7 linked regions of the Homo sapiens genome follow. The protein of the gene in region 7 purifies or fractionates together with the protein of the main gene of each other region. This does not show direct contact. Each region holds a gene or a part of one and is shown on either strand. Other genes may lie near its edges.

Region 1 (3,500 bases), about 83 Mb from region 7:
GGTGGCAAACAAATGCAAATGCAATGGTGGGTAAAGCATACACGGTCTATTTGAGAGAAAAGAATAGACATTAGGAAAAACACTTTTACCATAAAAAGGACATAGCTCCAGTATTTCTGAGCTGTCTTTTTATCTGACAGCTCTTCAGAATCCCTGGATTATTCGGTTATTAGGGAGGTTTTGATCTCTAAAGTAGAAGCAGCTTTTCTAAGACAGCTTGTCTAGCTCGAGCCATTAGCCACTTGTCACAGAGGGACTTCGGATTTGGCTCACCTATGGTGTATTTTATATACTCCAGGTATACAACACCCCCTGTTTATACAGCATGAGCCAGTTACATGGCACTCTTCCTAGGATAGCTCGCTGGGTCCCCACAGCAATCCCAAGCAGTAGGCAGACTGTGGCTGTTCTCCTGGCTCCCTCCAACAGGTCAGGCGACTGGCCCAGCACTCCCACCTCTAGTTTACTGCTCTTCGCTCTACATCAGGTGCATGGAATCGGACTTAAAAGATACCCTCTGAAAAGAAAATCTGTTCCATATTGCACTACTTTGGCTATATCCTTACAATCAGAGAGAAGGAGAAAGATCGCGATCTATTTAGTTTTCTTAGATAAGGCTCTTTGAAACTCTCACACTCAATCTAACTTCCTATGCAAAAAGAAGTGAAAACTAACCTATCTTATGCCCTAACTCTGCTGATGCACTATGCCAGGCACATTCTAACAAAACCTTGTAAGATACAGAATAGAATACTTATTTTTACTCAAGGGGTTGGGTGACTTGCCTGAGGATTCAAATCCAAGCCTGACTGACTCCATAATCCTCTGTTTCCCATTGTATCAACAATATTTTAATAGTATGAGAGTTTTTTAAGTGCCAGTTTGTGGTGGCATCTATATTTCAACTGTGCAACCTGAGGAAGTCTGCAGTATTCCTTTCTGTCATCGCCAGAAGAAGGGAGCTAAGGATGTTGTTAGTCTGTTTTTGAAGTATCACCTAGCACTCTACACAGAAAAAGCTGAGACAATTATCCAGAATGGGATTTTCACAGAGAATGCTTAATGGTAAGAGAGAGTGTAAAATATAATATTTGTATATTTCTCAAGGATCTCTACATAGATGTGTAATCTGGAAGCAATGGTATCATGTGTTCTTTTGAGAACTAATACATTCAAACCAGTGCAATTACAAGCATGAGAAATAGAATGTCCTTAATAAAAATGCTTGTTTCATCTGCAAAGGATCAGGAAACTTACCTTTGAATTGAAGGTAACATATTTTGGCGTACACGTGTCAGCATTTGTTGAATTAGCACTTATTGTTGAATTTAGCTCTGGAACAATGCAGGGAATTTGAAATTTCTTGTAAATAACCTGGTATTAAGAAGTATAGTAGAAGCAATATGGACTTTAGTAAAGCCAATGAATAATTATTACATGCCATTGTACTATCACAAAACCAAACCAACCATTGCAATCAGCACTTACCACAATTAGGAAAAAAACCATACAGCTCAAGGAAAATCCACTAGTATAGCCAAGATACCCTTTAAAAAAAAGTAAAAAATAAATTATTTCATTTTTTTCCATTTTTAAAAATTTTGGAGCTACCCATCATAAACTGTTATTATTTCAAAATTCATCACCTCACTTATTTCAGTGCATTATTTGAAGCATATTTTAGAGATCCAATAATAAACATACATGCCCAAGTGAATACAAGATTTATTATTTGACAGTGCTACTTTATTTGGCAAAAAAATGGGGCTCTGAATAGAAACATTATATTACGTGTTTTGATTCCAACTCTCCCTGGCACACTAGAGAACACAGATTCCCAGAATCCAGCAGAAAAGAGCCTTCCAATTTTTGCTGTAAGTCTGTGTTGGTGGACCCTGATGGAGTCCTATGGGCAAACCCATTTACTCCTTGATCCCCTCAATAGCTCTTTATTATGCACTTATTGTGTGCATACTGAATGTCAGTTATAATACTTTTCTCCCCAGATGACAGAGAGTAGATGAAGCGAATTTCTAGTGGTAAATTGAGTATCTGGGGCTCTTTAGTAGCTCCCCTTAGAATGCCTGGGAGATCTCCAATTGCTACCATGACCTCCAGAAAGGTAGAGTTAAGTAGCCTCTCGGGACTGCATTATTTTCAACCCAGGGGAAGAGCTTTTCTCTACTTAACTGAAAAGAGCTACCTCTATAGGTACAGAAAACACAGAGGCAGAAACCAGAAAATTAAGTAGTTAAAAAAATCTATTTATAAACCTCACAGAACAACTACAGAGCTGTTTTGTTTTGTATCCAAAACAAAACAAAAAACTAAGGCTCATAATTATTGTTTGGAGAGCTTTTATCCAAACTTCTGTTTGAATTAGCCCAGAATTAAAGTAAATACATTTTATAGGTTTTTGACTAGATGGCAGTCTGGTCACATTATTCAATGTATGAAATTCCCTTAACATCAGGCATCCTTGTCTCCAAATACAAGCATAAAAACAAGTAGTAGATCAAAGCCAAATGGATATGACTTGGAGATTATCCGCCATTTCTGACTTTTGATTTCTCTCTCCCACTTCGAAGAGAAATAATTGAGGCTGGTCAGACTCTCTAAATTTATAATACTTGTGGGTATAAATCTAGGCAGCTTTCTGTCTCCATATTAGATTTGAAAATGTATTTATCTAAATAATGAGGGTATTTAAGACTTCGTATGAAGAGAATTGCATTTTCTGGACTTTTCTTAGAGTAGCATATAAGTTGTACTACTGAAAATAGCCCTGTCTGTCCTGGCCCCAGGACCTCCCTTCTCCCCTCCACAGCTCAGTAGAGGGATTGTTTAGGAGGTCACATACTGACTGTTATTTTTATCCCATATTAAAGTTGGGACCGATTAATACTTGCAATTTATCATGTACTTAATCTTTGAGTGCATGCAGAGGGGAAGCAGAGGGCAACACTGTCCATTTTTATTCAGTTTCTGATTCACTTGGGCACTGCAGAATATGATAAAAGCAAAATCTGTCCTTACCTAAGTTCTTCAAGAGACACAGAGGGAGAATTATGCCAAAGGTAACTATCACCACCAGAACGCGGCCATCCACGTACCAGGCTCTGAAAGGCATTTAAGTGATTAGGTTATATTTTTTTAGAAAGTGACTTTTTTCCCCTCCAATGTAAAATTTCATGATATCATGATATATATTTTTATTAATTTTTACTATATGCATTAATTTTTAAAATCATTATTCAGGTCTTATCCAAACACTTTAACCCAGCCCCTACTTATATACTACAGCTTCACTCCCCTGTAATGGAAGAGGGAATATTGGTTTTTTTTTTTCCCATTGGCTAAATGTGGCATTCTTTTGAATTATTTACATGGTTTCAAAGCTGAATGCACACATTTCATTCTGTCAGATTACAACTTGTCCTATCAATTATTTAAAGAGAAAGCTCCTTTTTGTTTTGCTGGGCTAGTATCAGTGAGAAACA
Region 2 (3,500 bases), on a different chromosome or scaffold from region 7:
GCTCACCTGCAGCAGCTCCAGGTCTGCGGGCTCGGCCTGGGTGGGCACCAGCTCCGTCAGCATCTCCGACATCACCCTCACGTTCCCACTCACCATCTCCAGCTCACTGCGCAGCTTCCCAATCTGAAACACACAGTTGATCGTGGTGAGAGAAGCCAGGGTTCTGGGGCCCATGTTACTCACAGCGACAGAACCCAGTACCACCAACCCTGGGTGCAGCACCAGGGAGCCGACCTCCCAGCAGCCTCTCTAGGCAGCCTCCCTCCTGGCTCCCAAAGTGACAGCTCTGCACTAGAGGCCTGCCCCACCCCTTCTACAGACCCCTCACAGAGGCGCTACCAACCGTTACCATCTCCACACCGGAATGAGCCACCACGTGTGGCTGGAAGACTCCAGCATCTCCTGGGTCTAACACAGCAGCTAACAAGGCCCTGGAGGGTGGCTCCCCACAAGGCGGGGAGGGACGCTGCAGGCCCTCTCTCTCTCTCCCACTAGAGGACTGGGATTCTGCCCTCTCTCTCTCCTCCTAGAGGACTGGGATTCCGCCCTCTCTCCTAGAAGACTGGGATCCCCCCCTCTCTCTCCTCCTAGAGGACTGGGATCCCACCCTCTCTCCTCCTAGAGGACTGGGATCCCGCCGTCTCTCTCCTCCTAGAGGACTGGGATCCCGCCCTCTCTCCTCCTAGAGGACTGGGATTCCGTCCTCTCTCTCTCCTCCTAGAGGACTGGGATTCCACCCTCTCTCTCCTCCTAGTGGACTGGGCTTCTGCCCTCTTTCTCCTCCTAGTGGACTGGGATTTTGTCCTGTTTCTGGTCTATTTTGGTGTCCCAGGCTCATCTAAGGATAGTCCTTGCCCTGTACCCCACCTTGAATATGAAACTCAGATTTAGCACTTGTTCCAAGGGATGTGGGCAGGTTTTCAATGGTCAAAGGGTTCCAAGGAGTTGGGCTTGGGGAAACATTTTCAATAAAGCTGCAGTCTCCTCAAAGAGGTTAGCTTGTGAAAGGCCATTGGTATAAGGATCTTATGCTGTGGGACCTTGTAGGGTGTTTAATGCCCTCATGCACACTGGGAATGCCTGGGAAAAGATCAGTCTGAAAGCTTCTAAGATTTATTTGACTGAAGAACCTTTTTATGTTTTGAGAAATGCTGGTACATTCTAAATCATGTGGCTGAGTTATAGTTGATTTCAGAGTGTCACTATATACATTCATGATTGTGACAGCAGCTACCATTTATAGACTACCTAATAAGTGCCAAGCATTGAACATATATTGCTAACTTAATTTTTTACCATGGTAGACATCAATATCCCTGCTTTTATAGATGAAGAAATGGAGTGTAGAGACTAGTAGTATATCCACTATGGTTCACTGACACCTTCCAAAACCTGCAAAATGTTTGATCTATTTGGCTTACTTAATGAACACTCTTGGTATGAGTGAGTGGAAAAACTACTGATCACAAACCCCATGTATCCAAATCAGATGGGACTTAATTACAGAGGAGTCTGGGAGTAACATCACTGCACACCTGATGTCTTAACATGTCCCAAGAGACAAAAGGGGACTCTCGAATTAAACAAAGATTAGTTTTGTTTAGCAAGCACCTTCTTGCATTGGAAGTAATTAGCGTCTTAATCCACACAGATGCTAGACTTCAGAAAATTGGTTAAAATCATAACTGAGTTAGACAATCACAAGGTGGTTTTACAATTTTTTACACACCTTTAACCCACTCAGAAAAAAAAAGTGCAGCTCGCTGTCAGCACTCATTTAATTTTACATAAACATGCTCTTTGAGGCTGAAGTAAACCTGACTGATTTTCAACATGAAAATAAAACATAAAAACTGTTCTTGGAGTTATTTCTAAACAGAACTTGTCTCCAATCCTAACGTAACAGAAATGTATATGAGGTTACATTAGGATTAGAGACAAGAGTATTCTTGGGGCAAACGGGCAGTGCGTTAATAATTTTGTCCAGTTAGCAAAATTTTCTAGTAATATCTGTAACTCTGAGGGGTGATTTCATAACTTGCTATGAGAAAACAAATCATGGAAGTTTCTCTTCAAATAGGTTAGGGTGAGAATGAGTTCAAATGATACAAAAAGTGGGCAGTGGGGACGCTTATTGGGAAAGTTAAGCTTCACTTTTCTTTCCATCACACATCCGTGTCTAACTCACCAGCACACTCAGCAGCTCCACCTTTACGCTCCGCGGATGTGATGGGCCTGATGTGTGTACAACACCTTTAACGTGGGTGTCTCCACAGTGTGCAGGCCTCTGCCCCCACCCCAGCAGCCAAAAGTCTAGAATGACAAGCCCCCAGCTCTACGAGCTGGTCATGGCTGTAGAAGTCACTCAGCAGATACAGCAGCCATGGCACTCCACAAGCAGCTCATGGCCCAGTGGGCCATGAGGAGGAAGGAAGTGACATGCCCAGGGTGCCACCTGCTCTGAGGTGGGTAATCCTTCAAAGCTAGTCAGAGGGCTGGGAAAACCTGTCCCCTAGAATCTCATACTAAGCCTCAAACCTTCTTGGCTGGGTGTGGTGGCTCATGCCTGTAATCCCAGCACTTTAGGAGGCCAAGACGAGTAGATCACTTGAGCTCAGGAGTTCGAGACTAGCCTGGCCAACATGATGAAACTCCATCTCTACTAAAAATACAAAAAATTAGCTGGGCATGGTGGCTCATGCCTGTAGTCCCAGCTACTCAGGAGGCTGAGGCAGGAGAATTGCTTGAACCTGGGAGAGAGAGGTTGCAGTGAGCCTAGATGGTGCCACTGCACTCCAGCCTGGGTGACAGAGCAAGACTGTTTCAGAACAAACAAAAAAGCTTCAGACCTTCTTGAGACTTCATGGGAAGCAGCATGGTACAATGTACATATGTTTTTTATTTTTTGCACAGATGTTTGAAAACTTTTCAGGCAGAACCTCTCTTCAAATGAAGCCTTTTTTTTTTTTTTTTTTTTTTTTGAAACAGGTCTCTCTATGTTGCCCAGCCTGGTCTCAAACTCCTGGGCTCAAGCCATCCTCCTGCCTGAACCTTTGAGAAGCTAAGATCACAGACGCACGTGACCATGCCCAGCTCAAATGAAAGCTGTGAGTGTGTAAGAAACCACACAGGTGGAGCTGGCCTGAAGGGGCTGCGTACAGGACACCTCTCCATGGTGCTGTTGGAGGGCCCCGCAGAAAACACAGGTTGGAAAATGGCCAAGGTACAGGGCAGTGCCTGCCAGGAGTCAGACAGACGTGAGCTTGGATCCCAACTGTCTCTGATGACTGTGTGCTCTGGGCAAGTGAATGGACCTCTCTGAGTCTCATCGCTCAAACAGGAAGAACCACACATACCCTGTGGGCTGCTGTGAGGAAGAAGTGGAGGCTCCGTGGATGGTAAATTCTGACAGGGGGCCCTCCCTGACGTGTGTGGCCCACCTGCCTGGACCTGACGGTTCTGACCCCAGGCTCGTTTACCTGTTCCGGGGTTGGTGCTAT
Region 3 (3,500 bases), on a different chromosome or scaffold from region 7:
CTGCTTTTGCTCCTTGGATTGGCCTTGGTGGGGGAAGGAGGAGCCCCAGGGATGCCTCTGTAGGGTAACCGTGTTCAGGCGTCCTGGTGGGGGAGTTTGAAGAGGTCGGCCGCACCAGCTGGTCAAGCCCTGTACACACTGCCTGTCATTGTACCGGTAGCATGTGACCCTTTGAATCCTGAGGGCCGTGTGACTGTGCTTTGCTTGCTGGTGTGGGTGCGTGGTTGGCTGTTACCACCTCAGGGCTCTGTGGTCTCTGGGTGTGTCCCGGGGGAAGCAAGGGCAGGGAGTGCCCTGTTGGCCTGCAGAGCAGAGCCTTGATGGTCTCCCAGGCTGGACGTCTTGCTGGTGTCCCCGCGTTGGAGGGTCCTGGGGAGGGAGAGGCGGGCGGACCCAGCAGCGCCCATGGACTTGGTCTCCTCTCTGGAGCAGAAGCTGTCGGGCAGCCACAAGGCACTGGTGGAGATGCAGGATGTCGTGGCTGAGCTTCTGAGGACCGTCCCCTGGGAGCAGCCGGCCACTAAGGTGAGGGGCTGCGGGGTAGGCACTGGGGCAGGCAGGGCTCCTCTTTTCTCAGCATGAAAGGAATTTGTGGTGCAAACACAGCTCAGGGCAAATTTGGAGAAGGCACCAGGCTGGCCGAGTGGGGACCTGGTGTTGGAGGTGGCATGGGAGGTGTTCCTCTTCCCTCCCCCAGCCCTTTCCGCGTTAGGCCTCATTTTTTCCTCCCCTTCCTCCCTCCTTCATTCCTTTCCCTTGGGAATTTTTGGTAGGTTTTAAAAATCATTTCTTTTGAGATGGGCTCTTGCTATGTTGCCCAGGTGGGTCTCAGGGCTGGGATGACAGACGTGAACCACCACACCCAACGTTTAAAAAATAACTTTATTCTTTGTTTAAAAATAATACAAGCTCTTTATATTTAAAAAAATTGAAGAAAATGGAAAGAGATGAGGGAAGAGAGTAACAGAATCAGATCCATTCTCTGGGTGAGTGCCCTGGGGGCATTGTGGAAATTTGAGAGGATTCTTGTTTTTCCCTGTAGTGTTCTGGGCCCGGGCATTTCTACATTACAATATGTTAAAAAAATAAAATAAAGGCCTGGCGCGGTGGCTCACGCCTGTAATCCCAGCACTTTGGGAGGCCGAGGTGGGTGAATCACTTGAGCCCAGGAATTCAATACCAGCCTGGCCAACATGGTGAAACACCATTTCTACTAAAAATACATAAATTAGCTGGGCGTGGTGGTACACGCCTGTAATCCCAGCTACTTCAGAGGCTGAGGCAGGAGAATCACTTGAACCTGGGAGGCAGAGATTGCGGTGAGCGGAGATCACGCCACTGCACTCCAGCCTGGGCAACAGAGCGAGACTCCATCTCAAAGAATAAAATAAAAATAAAAAATAAATACGTTGCTATACTCTTGATAAAACCCAAATCTCTTTGGAGGTGTTTGGTCCACCCGTGGGGATCCCTGCCCCCACACACACCGCCCCAGGACTGGACATGAAGAGGGAGGAGTGCGTCTGTGGGCACAAGTGTGGGTCTCAGACTCCATTTGGGAGCAGCTGGCCCTTCTCCAAGGAGCTCTTCACAAAGATAAAAGCAAACAAATGTGTATACACACACGGGGCCGGGCACGGCACTCATGCCTGTCATCTCAGCACTCTGGGGGGCTGAGGCAAGGGGATCACTTGAGCCCACGAGTTCAAGACCATCCTGGGCAACATAGCAAGACCCCATTCTACAAAAAAATACAAAAACTAGCTAGGTGTGGCAAAGCATGCCTGCAATCCCAGCTGCACAGGAGGCTGAGGCAGGAGGATTGCTTGAGCCCGGGAGTTCAAAGCTGCAGTGAGCTGTGATGGCACCAGTTCACCCCAGCCTGGGCAACAGAGCAAGACCCTGTCTCTCTCTCTCTTTCTCTCTGTATGTATGTGTATATATATATAACATATATACACACACATAAAAAAAAATTAAAAATAAAAATTATACACACACACACACAATTGCTTTGATTTAAAGTTACTTTTTAGAATTTCTGTTACAGCTAGAGCTCCCTCTTGGCGTTTTTGCACTCGAGTGGGTAGGGAAGTGGATTCGTTTCCTGGGACCCCCATAGCACAGCAGCCCAGATGGGGCAGCCTCCGCAGCAAACGTTTATCATCTCACAGCTCTTGGCAGGGCCGGCTTCTTCCAAGGCCTCCCTTTTGCTTGTAGACGCTGTCTTCTCCCACTGTCTTCACAGGACCATCCCTCTGTGGGTGTCTGTGTCTTGATCTCCTCTTCTTTTTTATTTTTATTTATTTATTTTTTTGAGACAGAGTCTCTCTCTGTTGCCCAGGCTGGAGTGCAGTGGCGCAATCTCGGCTCACCGCAACCTCTGCCTTCTGGGTTCCAGCGATTCTCCTGCTGAGTAGCTGGGATTACAGGCGCCTGCAGCGCACCCAGCTCATTTTCCTCTTCTTATAAGGACACCCGTCCCATGGGGCTAGGACCCACCCATGTGACCTTGGTTTACCTTCAACACCTCTTTAAAGGCTGTGTCTCCAAGTGCAGCCCCTTTCTGAGGTCCTGGGGGTTCAGACCGCAACACAGGAATTCTGGAGGCACCATTGAGCCCGTAACAGTAGGCTCTGTTATCCCGAAATCCATTTCTTTTTTTTTGGTGTTGTTTTTGAGATAGGGTCTTACTCTCTTGCCGAGGCTGGAGTGCAGTGGTGTGATCTCAACTCACGGCAAACTTCGCCTCCCGGCTGAAGCGATTCTTCTGCCTCAGCCTCCTGAGTAGCTGGGACTACAGGCGCGTGCCACCACGCCTGGCTAATTTTTGTATTTTTAGTAGAGACAGGGTTTCACCATGTTGCCCAGGCTGGTCTCCAACTCTTGGCCTCAAGTGATCCACCCACCTTGGCCTCCCAAAGCGCTGGGATTACAGGGGTGAGCCACCGCTCCCGGCCCCAAAATCCATTTCAGGATTGTAGTGGGTCCTTAGAAAACGTGCCGTAAAAGGCAGCAATGGGCCCAGTCACTGCTCCTGTGGAGTCGCTGTCAGCCTGGCAGTGTTTCTGTGCAGCCGTTTCTCCAGGCATGAGACAGAGCTGGTGGTGTCCGTGCACAGGTGCACACGCATGCACACACGTAAGCACCGGTGAGCACACGGACACATTACAGGACTGCGCTCACTCTGCATGGAGAGTTTTGTCAGTCAGTATGAGACTCTTCCCTTGTCTTTAGCTGTTCCTTGAAATAATACTTTCAAAAGCAGAGCAGGTCCGTGTCAGTAGACACGTGGGGGTTCGCTGTTTCTCCCATTACAATAAAGGGAGGTCTGTCTTCACGTAGTGGCGACCACACTGGACAGGCGCTTCTGGGTCCTCATGTCCTTGGTAGACCCCACGGGTCTGAGGAGGGGCCTGGGGTCACCATTTCTCAAGGCCCAGAGTCCTTGTCCTCAGGACCTGCACTGAGACCCCAGGGTGGGGGGTATCTCAGTCGAA
Region 4 (3,396 bases), on a different chromosome or scaffold from region 7:
CTCATTCATGTAGAGATGAACACAGTGAGCACCTTGACATATATAGCTACAGATTTTAAAAATTCAGGTATATGTAAATATTTTCTAATAGTTCCCTGAACTATCTCCAAATAGAAGATGATACATATTTTTAACAGAACTAATTTTTAATCTTTATAAGTGGAAAATTATTTAGAAAACTGAAGCCTCTATTCAAGAAAACAATGGAATCTACTGCATAGTATCATATATTGCTAAGCATATCTAATGAATTCTAAGATATTTTTTCACACTTAACATCTCTGAAATCCAGATGTACTTTATAAGGTCATGAGTTAATTTGCAATATTTTTCTTTAATGTTTCATAAAATGACATTTTTATAGTTAATGAAATCTTAAAGTTGATGAAACATAGTATGTGATCTATAAGCAGTAACAAATATATATTCAGTATACATATGTAAATAAAAACATAAACATAAATATACAGAAACACATATAATGTACCTATTTCCTTTCCTACTATTAAATTTGTTCCTGATTGTATGGATGAAATATACCAATATTCAATACTGTTAAGATTTTTATTTCAAATGCTCTGACCTCTTGAGAGTGTGAGATTTATTAAAGATTTATAGAGAATAGGAAAAGACTGAGGATGAGAAAATCCCTCATAGTGATTTTAACAAATTTCATGAATATAATCAGGATGCAAAGAGGAGAAAGTCGCAGTCCAGAATACACCAAATTTTCCACCTAAACTTCTAATACCGCCATCACAAAGCTAAACAAATGATAGCTTTGTGTGTGTGTCTCCCCATGTACTAAAGGCTGCACTGAAAATATGGTTCTTTGGCTTCTCTAAAATCACTGACACTCTTTCTCCCTCTCCTTGATATGATACAGTATTACTATGAAGTATCTTAGTGAGTATTTTGTCAGTCACTGTTGCTGGGCATTCAATGAATTTTATTCATCCCTAGGAAATCCTCTTCCACATGATAGCATTTCCTTCTCCATTTTCTTCTTTCTAGATTCCTAATAGTCTGAATTGGTTCTCTATGTCTTCTATCTCTTTTTGTATTGGGGAAGTTTTCTTTTTGGACTTTAATCCTCCTATTGAACATTTTTATTTCAGCAACAATATTTGTAATCTGTTTATTCATTCTTGTCCTGGCTCCTTTCTGCTACATAGTAATTATAATTTTATAAAAGAGGTCTAGTCTCTTTACTAAATTGTCCTCCATGTTGATTTTGGAACTTAATCTTGAATTTTGTCTCTCACGTTGCTGGCTACCCTCATATGTGTGATGACTGTTAGTTGTACAATTACATTTAAGAAAGAGGATTACATTGCTAGCTGGAATTTCTTCTACTATTATAAAAATAGAACTGTTTTACCAACAAGTCTCTTCTCCGAGTGGGACTTGATGGTAACTATAACTGGGATAGGGCAAATCAACGTCATGGGTCCACAGGTTTTGCTTTAAACATGTGGATGTTGGGCCGAGCATGGTGACTCAGGCCTGTAATCTCAGTACTTTGGGAGGCCGCGGCAGGAGAGTAGCTTAAGCCCAGGAGCTTGAGACCAGCCTGGTCAACACAGCAAGACCCCATCTCTACAAAATAAATAAAGTAAAAATTGTTGAATTAAAATCAAAATAGATAAATGTGCAGGTGCAGAGCCAGTTATCAGCCTTTTAGTTCCCAGAGGCCAGCATTAGGTCCTAGTGTGCCAGCAACTACCAAAAGCCAATATACCAACATTTAATTCATTTCCATTGTTATCTAACTTTGTAGTGGCATCTTTTCATGCCTGTTGACAAGGAAACAAAGCTTTCAAAGTTTGGGTTGAAAATCTGGTACATTCTAGGCTGTGGCTTCCTTTCCTTTTCCATTCTGTTCCGTCCTTTTTATTTGCCACTCTCCCTGTTTGGGAGACAGGACTCCCAAACAGGGAGAGTTGCTGGACTTCTCACTCTTTTGTTCTAACTGACTCTGAATCCAAAGTGTTTCTGGGGCTAAATCAGGCAGACTGTCTCCTATTATTTCTAGACTATTTCCCAATCCCTTCACCTCTAGTATATTCTAGCCTTGTTTCTATCCTGTTATCTCCAGAAAACCTCAATCAAACGTGAACGCAAAATGAAGACATTTTTCGGACATAGAAGGGCTCCAAGTTATCTTTCTACACATTTTTTCTAAGGAATTTATAAGAGAGAGAAAGACATGGAATCCAATAAATAATGGATATAATCCAAGAGAGTAACTAAGGAAGACCCAGGATGGCAGATTTACAGGAGGCCTGCACAGTTACTAGTCACTGGTACAGGAGGAAGAAGATGTGATTAAGATACATAGGGAAAGAAAAAAAAAGGTGGCAATTAAAAACTCCAGAAAAATTAACAAGAAAGAGTCTTAGTAACAATTGGAATAACACTTCACGTGATTTTAAGAATAACAGAGTAAGGAAGATTTATTTGAGCCTGATGTTTGGAGCACTAACTGGTGGCCTAAGTAAGAGTCATGACATTAGACCCATATAGAGAAGGAAGTGTAATTCTAGCACACAAGTTTGCTTAGTACAATATTTGCCTGAACAATATTTACATAGTCATAATAATGTAACTTTTAAAAGTGGAGGCAACAATAGAGTAACTAAAAATTAACAGTTAAAACAAAGGTTGCCTCTGAAGGATGGAATAGGGGTAAGGATGCATAGGATACAAGATTTTACGATCATCAGCTCTTTCTATACCTGTGCAGTCCAAAACGGTAGCCACCAGCCATGTGTGTGGCTCCAGAGTACTTGCAACGTAGCTAGTCCTAATTGAGATTTGCTGTCTTCTGAATTGTGAAGACTTTGTATTTAAAAAAAAAGAATGTAAAATAGCTCATTAATCATTTTTAACGTTGTTTACATGTAGAAATATTTTGGATATTGGGTTCAATAATATCTATTATTAAAATTAATCTCACTGTTCCTTTTTTCCTTTTTAATATGGCTTCTAGAGAATTTAAAATTATATATGTGACTCACGTATAGTACAACACTGTAAATCTATACCATTTGATATATACACATATGACCGATGATCATTATACTACTAACAATATTATAAACTAAAACATAAACTCCCTCTGAATTGCTACAAAATCTTAATTAACAAGTTCCAAATCAATGTCCACAGTAGCGCTGTAGTAACTGGAAGGTCTAGGGCAAATTTAGTGCTGAGACTGTGGCACAAAAACATGTACCTTACATCTTAGCCTAGAACTGCACCTTGAGGAATTTCCTTAGTGGGAAGTGGGTTCTGGTCTCTCTAAAAAATAATCCCACTGTTCATAAAATACTTCTTTAAAAAATTATGGCAAACCTATATAAAAGCAGAGGGAATAATACAGTGAATTTCCTA
Region 5 (3,500 bases), on a different chromosome or scaffold from region 7:
AACAATACAAAAATTAGCCAGGTGTGGTGGCCCATACCTGTAGTCCCAGCTACTCCAGAGGCTGAGGCAAGAAGTGCTTGAACCCAGGAGGTGGAGGTTGCAGTGAACCAAGATAGTCCACTGCACTCCAGCCTGGGCGACAGAGCGAGACTCTGTCTCAAAAAAAAAAAAAAAAAAAAGACAATGGCTGAACAGAAAAGGAGAGAGAGAGAGAGAAATAAAGATAACAGCTGAAAAAAATTCTAAAAATAATAGAAGACATCAAACTAAAGATCTAAGAAGCTCAGAGAACAAGAAGCAGAAAAAATACCACGAAAAAATATGATCTAGACTTTCAAGAAAGCTTCCAGTCATCCTGAAAAGGCCATCCACACAGGAACAAAATAGCTAAATGGCAACTTATGCGGACTAGGATTCCCCATCCTCTTACATCATGCCATTCCACAGGGCCCTTTGATAACTGGCACAGCCTCTTGGAACTACGATCCAATGCTGAGATATTTGGGGGTTAGAGAACAATGAAATGACCAAGATTACATTTTTATCATCCAGGTGGAATTAGGATTTATAATAGAAAGCCAATTGAATATTTAAACTAAGTATAAATTTTACAAAATTGAATTTGTGGACCTTGTGCCTTGATTTTTTAAAATAAGTACATTCTTCAAATAATTTTTCTTTAAATGAACACACACTGCTATGGATCAAATATCTGTGTCCTCCTAAAATTCATATTAAATCCTAACTCTTAATGTGATAGTATTTGTAGGTGGGGTCTTTGAAAGGTTATTAGGTCATGAGGGTATATCTCATGAATGGGATTAGTGCCCTTATAAAAGAGGACCCAAAGAACTCCCCTACCCCTCTGCCATGTGAGGACAGAGTGAAAAGATAGCCATCTATGAACATTGAAGTGGGCTTTCACCAGACCTTGATCTTGGACTTCCAGCTTCCAGAACCATGAGAAAGAAATTCATGTTGATCACAGGCTATGGTATTCTGTTTTAGCAGCTCGGACTAAGACACACAGTAAGGTAGGACTGTTTGTTCCATGAGGGCAGAACTACATTCATCTCATTCAGTACTGTTCCTACCACAACAACAGTGTCAGATACATAAGATCAATATGTATGTGTTAAATAAATATGTTGGATGTTAATGGAAATGTAAAAAATTTCATTAGTGTTTTTTTTTTTTTGAGATGGAGTTTTCCCTCTTGTTGCCCAGGCTGGAGTGCAATGGCGCGATCTCGGCTCACCACAACCTCCGCCTCCCAGGTTCAAGTGATTCTCCTGCCTCAGCCTCCCGAGTAGCTGCGATTACAGGCATGTGCCACCATGCCAGGCTAATTTTGTATTTTTAGTAGAGATGGGCTTTCTCCATGTTGGTCAGGCTGGTCTCGAACTCCCGACTGCAGGTGATCTGCCTGCCTTGGCCTCCTAAAGTGCTGGGATTACAGGCATGAGCCACCATGCCCAGCCGAAAACATATTTTAAAGAAAACAATTATTCTCACATTTATCTGTTCTGTAATATTTTTGCAATGACTTCTCTTGAAAAGATACATACCTAAACAAAAAAGGTTTCATTATTTAGTATAAAAATGAATATGTTATGGTAACATAACAAAGTGGGGAACATTCAGGGTACATGAAAAATAATCACAATCATACATCACTGCTATTACAACTATTACATTTCAACATGAAAAATTGCTACGAAACTTCTAGTAGAAAAAAATGGTTTCGTTTAAGCTATAGGTGTTAAGCTGTCATTTAGTTTCAATTTTGTTTCAATAATACAGTGTTTTGTTGTTGTTGTTTCTGAGATGGAGTCTCGCTCTGTCACTCAGGCTGGAGTGCAGTGGCACTATCTCAGCTCACTGCAACCTCCATCTCCCAGGTTCAAGCAATTCTCCTGCCTCAGCTCCCGAGTGGCTGGGACTACAGGCATGTGCCACCACACTTGGCTAATTTTTGTATTTTTAGTAGAGACAGGGTTTCTCCATGTTGGCCAGGCTGGTCTCGGACTCCTGACCTCAGGTGATCCACCCACCTCAGCCTCCCAAAGTGCTGGGATTATAGGCGTTTGAGTCAGCGTGCTCGGCCGATACAGTGTCTTTTTAATGCACGTGTGTTCCTAAAAAGATCATTAATTACTCAGGAACAAGAGTAACATCTTAATTATATGGGCTTTCCTATGTTTATCCCACACCTCATCTAAGGATAATGTAATGGACAACTGGAAGTAAAACAAAATCTATCTCTAAAAAGTCAACAGGGAGATCACCAGACCAACATGCTGTATTTAAGCAAAAGTACCTTAGGCTTTCACTCAGAATCATTTCTATACATATAATTTACACACGGGTCAAATTCACAAAATGACAACAAAATAAATAAATATCACATGCCTACTCCATAGAAATGCAAGGAAAACAGAAGTCTTTAAAAATGTCCAATCATCTCTCAATGAATTGCCAACATCTATTTTTACTACGGGCTAACAGCTTGGGACCCGGGCTCCTGCCACTCAAGAATGGCACCTAAACCAGCAGCAGCAGTTGGCAGCTTGTTAGAAATGCAGACTCTTGAGCCTCACTCAGGACTACTAAGACAGAATGCACATTTGAACATCTCCAGATGACTGATACTGAGAAGCACTGACCCAAAGGCTAGATGAATGAAAGATAAACCAAGCAGCTTCTAATGAGAACACTAGCTACAGTAAAGTTTATATAAATTCCAATCACCCTTAAAGCAAACCAGCCTTAAATACATACCCATCCTCATAGTTCCACATGAATATATCACTGTCAATTGTGAGCCAAGCTCTGCTGATAGGAGGGAACACACCCATCATGCAATTACACTGCATATCTGAGGTAGTGTGGATGTAAGGCAGACAGAGGTGAATCTTATTCTTCTTTAACTTGTTTCAATAGCTTTTGACTTAATATTTACGTAAAAAATCACAATGTGTCCACTCTTTAATACAACATGGAACCCATATACTTAAACGAATTTTAAATAAAACCCTTAAATGAATATATAACACATTAATTAAACATAGAACAAGAATTATAAGAATGAAAAATACCAATTTTAACATTTTTAAAATAAATACAAAGTAATAGGATACGTCCAAACTGCTCAACAAGTTCAGGTGGGAGAGGAACTCTTCGGATGGAACTGATCTCTGGAAGGTTGGGTACGGACAGCAAACCAGGTCCTTGCAAAGGATAATCCATATCTGACATGCCAGAAACGGTGGGATTATCTACAAAAAGAAAATGAAGTATTTATAATAATGTACTGCTCATCAACCGGGCAAACAAAAGGATTGAGTGCCACAAAAAAATTGTTGTGTGTTGGTTCCAAAGGTACAGAGAGAATATTCTAGTTTTGACCCAACACAAAGTAGTCCTGAAATATTCCCTTGTGAAGGTAGGAACAGTTACTGGTTTCAGGCCTAAAGGGAAAGTCATATCTCAAAAAACTT
Region 6 (3,500 bases), on a different chromosome or scaffold from region 7:
AAAAAAAAAAAACGAGAAAACAAAAACAAAAAACCCTGAAGAATAAATGCAAAGAAAAATGTCTGACTTCTGAGAAATTTAAGCTAAGTGATCTCGAACAGTAATTCTGAAATTACTGTCTTATATGACACCTGGGGTCCCTGAAGTAAAAGACTATTTTTATTCTAATATACAAAAATTAAAAGCTTTTCACTCTCACTTTTCAGAAGCTACATGAAATGTGACACGTACCTGTGTCATCTTGAGTCTTTGAGAAATTTCTAAGGTAGAAGTTTAGGGTATAATATAATATATAGGTGGTCTCAGAGATTAGCTCAATTTGTTCTCAGAACTTTTAACTGACTTCTTAACAGCAAATTTAAGTTACACCTATTATAACCTGTTATCTCATTATCATCCAATAAATAATTATTTTAAAATCCTGAAATTTCTAAAAATATGCTAACAAGGCCATTCTTTTGACTACTTTATTTTGGAAAATATAGTTATTTTTCATGAAACTTTTTTTTTTTTTTTGAGATGGAGTCTCGCTCTGTCACCAGGCTGGAGTGCAGTGGCGTAATCTTGGCTCACTGCAACCTCTGCTTCCCAGGTTCAAGCGATTCTCCTGCCTCAGCCTCCAGAGTAGCTGGGACTACAGGCGTGCACCACCACACCCAGCTAATTTTTTGTATTTTTAGTAGAGACGAGGTTTCACCATGTTGGCCAGGATGGTCGGGATCTCTTGACCTTGTGATCTGCCCAGCTCGGCCTCCCAACATGCTGGGATTATAGGTGTGAGTCACTGCGCCCGTTCAAAACATTTTTTTTTTTAATGTTAACGTGTAATCGCCTTATTTTTGCTTTTTAAATGAATAAATAACTATTTTAAAATTTCTCAGTCTTGAGGCTGAGGCAGAAGGATCGCTTGAAGCCAGAGTTTAAGACTAGCTTGGGTAACGTAGTGAGACCATGTCTCAAAAAAATTTTTCTTTACTTAGTTTTAATTTTTAATATACTATCAATACAGATAGCCACATATACAAAAGACAATGTAAGGGGTCCTAGCATCAAAAAGTTTGAGAATTACTCATCTAGAAAGATTTGTTGCAAATGGAAAAATAATAAAAAGCTGAAATTAAACTAGGTATGTACATAAAAGCAGTAACTGGATTCCGAACATGGCTGTTTTGCAAATATCTCTTGTCTTCGCTTCATTTTTTTATTTAGTGAAAGCTAATTAACAGATTTAACCTTTTACCCAGCGATTCCACTTCACAGATATATTCTGCAAACATAAGCGCAGACAGGGTGATATGTGTGTTGGTTAAAAAAGATGATACTTCCATACTATGCAATACTACACAGCTATGACAGAGAATGCTAAAAGCATTCTATGTGCTGATATGGAAAAGATCTTAATATAGTTGCTAGGTGAAAAAAGCAAGGTGCTGAATGATGTTTAAAATGCTACCTTGGAGCATTTATTGAAAAGCTGGGGGAAGACAAGGTTTTGCTGTTTTTTACCGTCTTGATTTTTCAACTATGTGAATACGGAGCCTAGTAGGAAAAAAAAATTTAATAAAATGAAAGAAATGAGAAATTACAGGTAATACATTTAAGTATGATTTTTATATACAAACAATTTCTAAGTAGTCTAAATAAGGGATCTAAAGACTCAAAGGAAAGGGCTTGGCCCTAAATCAAAGTTTTGGTGAATAAAAATACATACATGTTTTAAAGATAAAATAAAGGGGCCGGGTGCAAGTGGCTCACACCTGTAATCCCAGCACTTTGGGAGGCTGAGGCGGGCGGATCACAAAGTCAGGAGTTGGAGACCAGCCTGGCCAACATGGTGAAACCTCGTCTCTACTAAAAATACAAAAATTAGCCAGGCGTGGTGGCGGGCGCCTATAATCCTAGCTACTCGGGAAGCTGAGGCAGGAGAATGGCTTGAACCCGGGAGGCAGAGTTTGCAGTGAGCCGAGATCGTGCCACTGCACTCCAGCCTGGGCCACAGAGCAAGGCTCCGTCTCAAAAAAAAAAAAAAAGATAAAAGATATGATTTGGCTGGGCACAGTGGCTCATGCCTGTAATCCCAGCACTTTGGGAGGCCGAGGTGGGTAGATCACGAGGTCAGGAGTTCAAAACCAGCCTGGCCAACATGGTGAAACCCCGTCTCTACTAAAAATACAAAAATTAGCCAAGTGTGATGGCAGGCACCTGTGATCACAGCTACTTGGGAGGCTGGGGCAGAGAATTGCTTGAACCCAGGAGGCAGAGGTTGCAGTGAGCCGAGATCGCACCACTGCACTCCAGCCTGGGCGACAGAGCGAGACTCCGTCTCAAAAAAAAAAAAAAAAAAAAAAAAAAAAAAAAAAAAAGACATGTATTTTTTTTTTAGATATCCAACTTTTATCTGATTTTTTTTATTAACTACTAATACTGAATGCACTGCCTACGAGGGCCATTAGGAACTCGGCGGTAATAAATGTAGGGCATTCACCTTCTCATTCCACCAAGCCCCAAGATTCTCTGGGGCCTGCCCTTGGAGGGAGGTTAGGAGTTCTAACAACAGTCCGATCTCCAGTTGCCAAGGCGGAGAATTCGGTTTCCCATGGCTGGGCACTCTGGGCTCCCTTGGGCAGGCCAATTCTGTGGCTTTCCCGGCCTCTTTTCCTTGTGCAGGTCAGAGGGCCCAGCCTCTGCGTCTCTGCCTCTGCCAGGCCCAACCAGGGGCCCCCTGAGAGGTTTAATGCCCACGGTAGTGGGGGGAGGGGGGAACAAGATAGTGGGGCTTCGTGACCCTGTGTTCTAGGGCCTGCCCTCCTGTCCCCTAGGTGGGCATGAAGCCCTGGCTGGCGACAGTCGATGGGGCGGACTCTGGACTCCTTATCTCCTGGCATTCCACCAGCCCACCAGCCTGGAGGTCAGAGAAGCCCCACTGCAGACACCCGGTGAGTCCCGGCTGGGCTGAGCAGCAGGTCCCTTCCCTGCTCACTCCCCAGCCTCCCATGTCTCCAGGGAGTCTGGAAAGAGTAAGAGACTCCTCCAGAAGAAACTAACACCCCCTCCCTCAATAAGCACAGGGACAAATGGCCCCTTCCTCTTCTAGTTTCCAAGCAAAGACTGGAGGTGTCAGCAATTTCATAATCACATTTAGGATCAAAAATAGAACCCTTCTTTGGTCTTCTCCATCAAGTCTCTTGGCCACTGGCAACCATGTGACTCGGGAATACCAATTCACCTCCCTGGATCCAGTTTCTTTCACTGTAAAATAAAGGTGCTGGACTCCAAGATCACCAAAGTCCCCTGCTCAACATTCCATGGTTGTGGGGCTCAGCAACATGGTGCAGCATTACCTTGGCCAGGTCAGGTGCAGGCAGGCTATTATCCTGACATAGTGGGGAGAGGGAGGTCCTGGTTCCCAGGCACGCACAATCTATTCACAACACTACTGTGTAAACCCCATGATTCTGCAAATGTTGGACAGGGATTGAGTTTCCTCTTGGAATAGTGCA
Region 7 (3,500 bases):
CTTGGGCTTAAGTTCTGGACTTTATTAACTGGCATCCAACATCACCAAACATGAGTCATAGTTGGCCAGTGACTTGGAGGGGTTCTGAGGACACAGGCCTTTCTGTTTTAACACCTCAGTTCATGGGACTTTGGTGCTAACACTGGGTAAGTCCCATGAGATCATCTGGTTACCCTCAGTGCATCTCGCCATTCTGCTACTGCACCTTCCTGTCAAGAGTTACAGACCTGACCGCCGTATGATGGACCTGACCGCCGTATGATGGACCTGACCGCCGTATGATGGACCTGACCGCTGTATGATGGACCTGACCGCCGTATGATGGACCTGACCGCTGTATGATGGAGCCCATGCTGACCTTTAGGTAAGAGGCAGTGGCTTACTTTTTAAAGAGCAGAGACAGGTACTGACAGCATAAGCAACTGCTTAGTTTTTCATTCAAATGTATTTCAAAGCTTTTTAAAATAAAAAGAAACATGTATAAAGCATGTCTTCTGTCTCCTCGATGTCCTCCACAAATTTCTACCTTTATAATCTGGCACCAAAGGAGCTTCCGTCTACACTAGCAGTGAGAGAAAGTGCAACGTGGGGTTAAAGCATGAGCTCTGGAATCAGGCCACTGGCCTGTCTTTAAGATGGGATAATAAGACCGCACCCGCCTCCTTGGGGAAATGCAGTGTTAAAGGAGAGAAGACATGTAAACCACTCAGCCCAGGCCCAGCACACAATAAGCACACAACAAACCGAAGCTAGGATGTTAATAAAGAGATCGATAAAGTCCTTTCAAACAGCCCAAGATGAGAACTAAGTGCTTACCCATTACTCTGGCGCTCTCCACTTCGCTTCTGGGAACAGCAGGAATACGTCAGTATCTTGAACATGTCGGTGAAGGCACTGCCATCAGGAGGCTTGGTGATGAAAACGCTCTGGCCACAGAGGAAGACCACAAAAGCAAGGCCGACGCAGACAGTGGGGATCGCATAACCAGTGACAAAGCTGACGTTCTGCTGAATATAGGCAATGCCACCTAACGACAGGATCGCTCCCAGGTTAATGCTCCAATAAAACCAATTAAAAAATCTCCTAGTGGCTTCCGGACCTCGATCTTTAACCTAAAATAACAGGGAGGAAAGACACTTGAAAATATATGACAGTCTTCAAGGATGAAAACCATATACGGTCAAGTGGTTAAAATTACCGTTGTCATCACAACCTTTAAGAAGCGCAACACAATCAAAATTGTGTTTACAGAAACATTCACGGATCTCAACAAAAAGCACACCCCACGCTTTTAATTACTACAGTTGCTAGGTAGGTTTCACTTAATTACACTAAATTCCAACAAATGCTAGAGAGTTTTTCCAAGTATATTCTGCTGTAGAATTTTCTAAGTACCTGAACCACTTGCCTTGGAATTACCTGGAATGCTCTTTAAAAACAGAGTCCGCTGGGCATGGTGGCTCACGCCTATAATCCTAGCACTTTGGGAGGCTGAGGCGTGTGGATCACTTGAGGTATGGAGTTCGAGACCAGCCTGGCCAACATGGTGAAACACCGTCTCTACTAAAAATACAAAAATTAGCCAGGCATGGTGGTGGGCACCTGTAATCCCAGCTACTTGGGAGGCTGAGGCAGGAGAATCGCTTGAATCCAGGACATGGAGGTTGCAGTGAACCGAGACTGTGCCACTGTACCTGGTTGACAAGAGTGAAACTCCATCTCAAACAAACAAACAAACAAAAAACAAACACAGTCACAGGACCCACGCTCCAGACCTACTGAATCACGGTCTCTGGGGCCCAGGCCCAGGAATCTGCATTTCAAGCAACTTCCCAGGTGACTTCTACTCACAGGTAAGTTTTAGAACCAATGTTATAAAGCTCCATGCCTTACTGAGCTACATGCAAGTACCATGAGGCACCCCACAAATATGCTTAGGCCCCAAAGAGAGACATTTGTTCAGTGAGGCCAAGTCACCACCCACACCAATTGTATCTGGTCTCCTGAGAATCAGAGATCTCAGTAAACTTGAAGCAAAGAGGAAATTATAGACTAAAGATAAAACCACATGCTATTTTTAGATTAGACAGGCTATCAATGGAATCGGAGAAATTCTGATAAGGGTGGGATTTCCAAAAGGCTCAAAAATCACTGACTTCCTGGACTCAAACAAAAGCACTGAGGTAATAACGCAACATCTAGGCTTATGGAGTTCACGAGGCTACTTCAATGGAGCCCAAGCGGTGGGAACAGGTCATTTGGGGGCAGACACACCAGAAGCCTTCTCTGCCCACCTGGATTTTTACGTCTAAATAAGATACTGTGCAAATGAACCCTGTACTAGACAGAGACATTTCTAGTGAGTTTCATTTCATAAATTTATTTTTAACAAACTTATGAGAGGCTGATACTGGATCTCATAAAAAGACTCTCTTGCTGTCTTAAAAACTTCTACTGTCTCATTCTTAAGTCACAGGTTATGAAAGAGTTAGAAAATTCTTATTCTAATAATAGATCTAGTTTCTGGATCCATAGAACAATCTGCTCTACTGAATAACACATTCTCAATGGGGCCAAAACAACCAATTACGGTTGGGCATGGTGGCTCAGGTCTGGAATCCCAGCACTTTGGGAAGCCAGGGCAGGCAGACCGCTTGGGTCTAGGAGTTTGAGAGCAGCCTGGGAACACAGACAGACCCCCATCTCTACAAAAAATTACAAACATCAGCCAGGTGCGGTGGTGTGCGCCTACAGTCCCAGCTACCTGCGAGACTGAGGTGGGAGGATCCCTTGAACTGGGGAGGAGGTGGCAGTGAGCTGTGATGGCACCACTGCACTCCTGCCTAAGCGACAGAGGCCCTGTCTCAAAAGAAAAAAAAAGATATGGTATGTAATAAGCACATGCATCTTTTTAGCAGTCATATATTTGATATGGTATTTTAAACTCTATTTTTTAAAGATTAAATCAGAGGAGTAAAATTTATAGTTAAAATTGTGTGTTCCTCTCTAAAGGAAATAGAGCAAAAGAAAAAAAATTGTGTGCTCCTCAAAAAGAGATTTGTTTGAAGTCCAAATGATTAAGCATGGCCACTATGGTGGCAGGTAATTAATTATATATAGTAACACCACTTCAAACGAAAAATCTAAATTTAAAAGAAAATCACTTATTCTCAAGAGTTTAAACTTTTCTCTTATCTATTACAATACTGAACAGAGGTCCTAGACCAAATGCAGACATCTCTACTGAATAAAGAGTTTGAGGTGAGAACTTCACAGACATCTAAGACACTTCTTCACTAGGACACAATGCATTTAAATATTGCTCAACAGTGGACACCAATTCTCATGCTATACTAGACATGGACCAGGAAGAAAAATGAAAAATGTGAGCAGAGAAATGGTTACTGAGAAAACAAAACTAGAAGTGCGAAAAAATAACAAACAAAAAGTAATTTTTTGACAAGCATAAAAGAGGCCAGTAAACATAGTATATAAACTTA

The links.
Region 1: the proteins of SLC15A4 (region 7) and SLC38A1 fractionate together in Homo sapiens (co-fractionation; one large-scale study listed by BioGRID). This does not show direct contact.
Region 2: the proteins of SLC15A4 (region 7) and TOM1 purify together in Homo sapiens (affinity purification with mass spectrometry; one large-scale study listed by BioGRID and IntAct). This does not show direct contact.
Region 3: the proteins of SLC15A4 (region 7) and TTYH3 purify together in Homo sapiens (affinity purification with mass spectrometry; one large-scale study listed by BioGRID and IntAct). This does not show direct contact.
Region 4: the proteins of SLC15A4 (region 7) and SMCHD1 fractionate together in Homo sapiens (co-fractionation; one large-scale study listed by BioGRID). This does not show direct contact.
Region 5: the proteins of SLC15A4 (region 7) and NUP155 purify together in Homo sapiens (affinity purification with mass spectrometry; one large-scale study listed by BioGRID and IntAct). This does not show direct contact.
Region 6: the proteins of SLC15A4 (region 7) and SLC39A14 purify together in Homo sapiens (affinity purification with mass spectrometry; one large-scale study listed by BioGRID and IntAct). This does not show direct contact.

What each region holds. Positions count from the first base shown.
Region 1 is NC_000012.12:46,203,044-46,206,543, forward strand, and holds part of SLC38A1 (sodium-coupled neutral amino acid symporter 1), read right to left. Parts: intron 3,120-3,500; coding exon 3,037-3,119; intron 1,548-3,036; coding exon 1,489-1,547; intron 1,375-1,488; coding exon 1,258-1,374; intron 47-1,257; coding exon 1-46. UniProt on the Homo sapiens protein: Symporter that cotransports short-chain neutral amino acids and sodium ions from the extraccellular to the intracellular side of the cell membrane. The transport is elctrogenic, pH dependent and driven by the Na(+) electrochemical gradient.
Region 2 is NC_000022.11:35,323,894-35,327,393, reverse strand, and holds part of TOM1 (target of Myb1 membrane trafficking protein), read right to left. Parts: coding exon 3,480-3,500; intron 124-3,479; coding exon 7-123; intron 1-6.
Region 3 is NC_000007.14:2,652,486-2,655,985, forward strand, and holds part of TTYH3 (protein tweety homolog 3), read left to right. Parts: intron 1-432; coding exon 433-525; intron 526-3,500. UniProt on the Homo sapiens protein: Calcium-independent, swelling-dependent volume-regulated anion channel (VRAC-swell) which plays a pivotal role in the process of regulatory volume decrease (RVD) in the brain through the efflux of anions like chloride and organic osmolytes like glutamate.
Region 4 is NC_000018.10:2,798,726-2,802,121, reverse strand, and holds part of SMCHD1 (structural maintenance of chromosomes flexible hinge domain-containing protein 1), read right to left. Parts: intron 2,842-3,396; coding exon of another isoform or gene 2,739-2,841; intron 1,600-2,738; exon of another isoform or gene 1,382-1,599; intron 1-1,381. UniProt on the Homo sapiens protein: Non-canonical member of the structural maintenance of chromosomes (SMC) protein family that plays a key role in epigenetic silencing by regulating chromatin architecture.
Region 5 is NC_000005.10:37,361,107-37,364,606, forward strand, and holds part of NUP155 (nuclear pore complex protein Nup155), read right to left. Parts: intron 3,279-3,500; coding exon 3,141-3,278; intron 2,879-3,140; coding exon 2,782-2,878; intron 1-2,781.
Region 6 is NC_000008.11:22,370,278-22,373,777, reverse strand, and holds part of SLC39A14 (metal cation symporter ZIP14 isoform a precursor), read right to left. Parts: intron 1-3,500. UniProt on the Homo sapiens protein: Electroneutral transporter of the plasma membrane mediating the cellular uptake of the divalent metal cations zinc, manganese and iron that are important for tissue homeostasis, metabolism, development and immunity.
Region 7 is NC_000012.12:128,813,959-128,817,458, forward strand, and holds part of SLC15A4 (solute carrier family 15 member 4), read right to left. Parts: exon of another isoform or gene 1,420-3,500; intron 1,113-1,419; coding exon 817-1,112; intron 1-816. UniProt on the Homo sapiens protein: Proton-coupled amino-acid transporter that mediates the transmembrane transport of L-histidine and some di- and tripeptides from inside the lysosome to the cytosol, and plays a key role in innate immune response.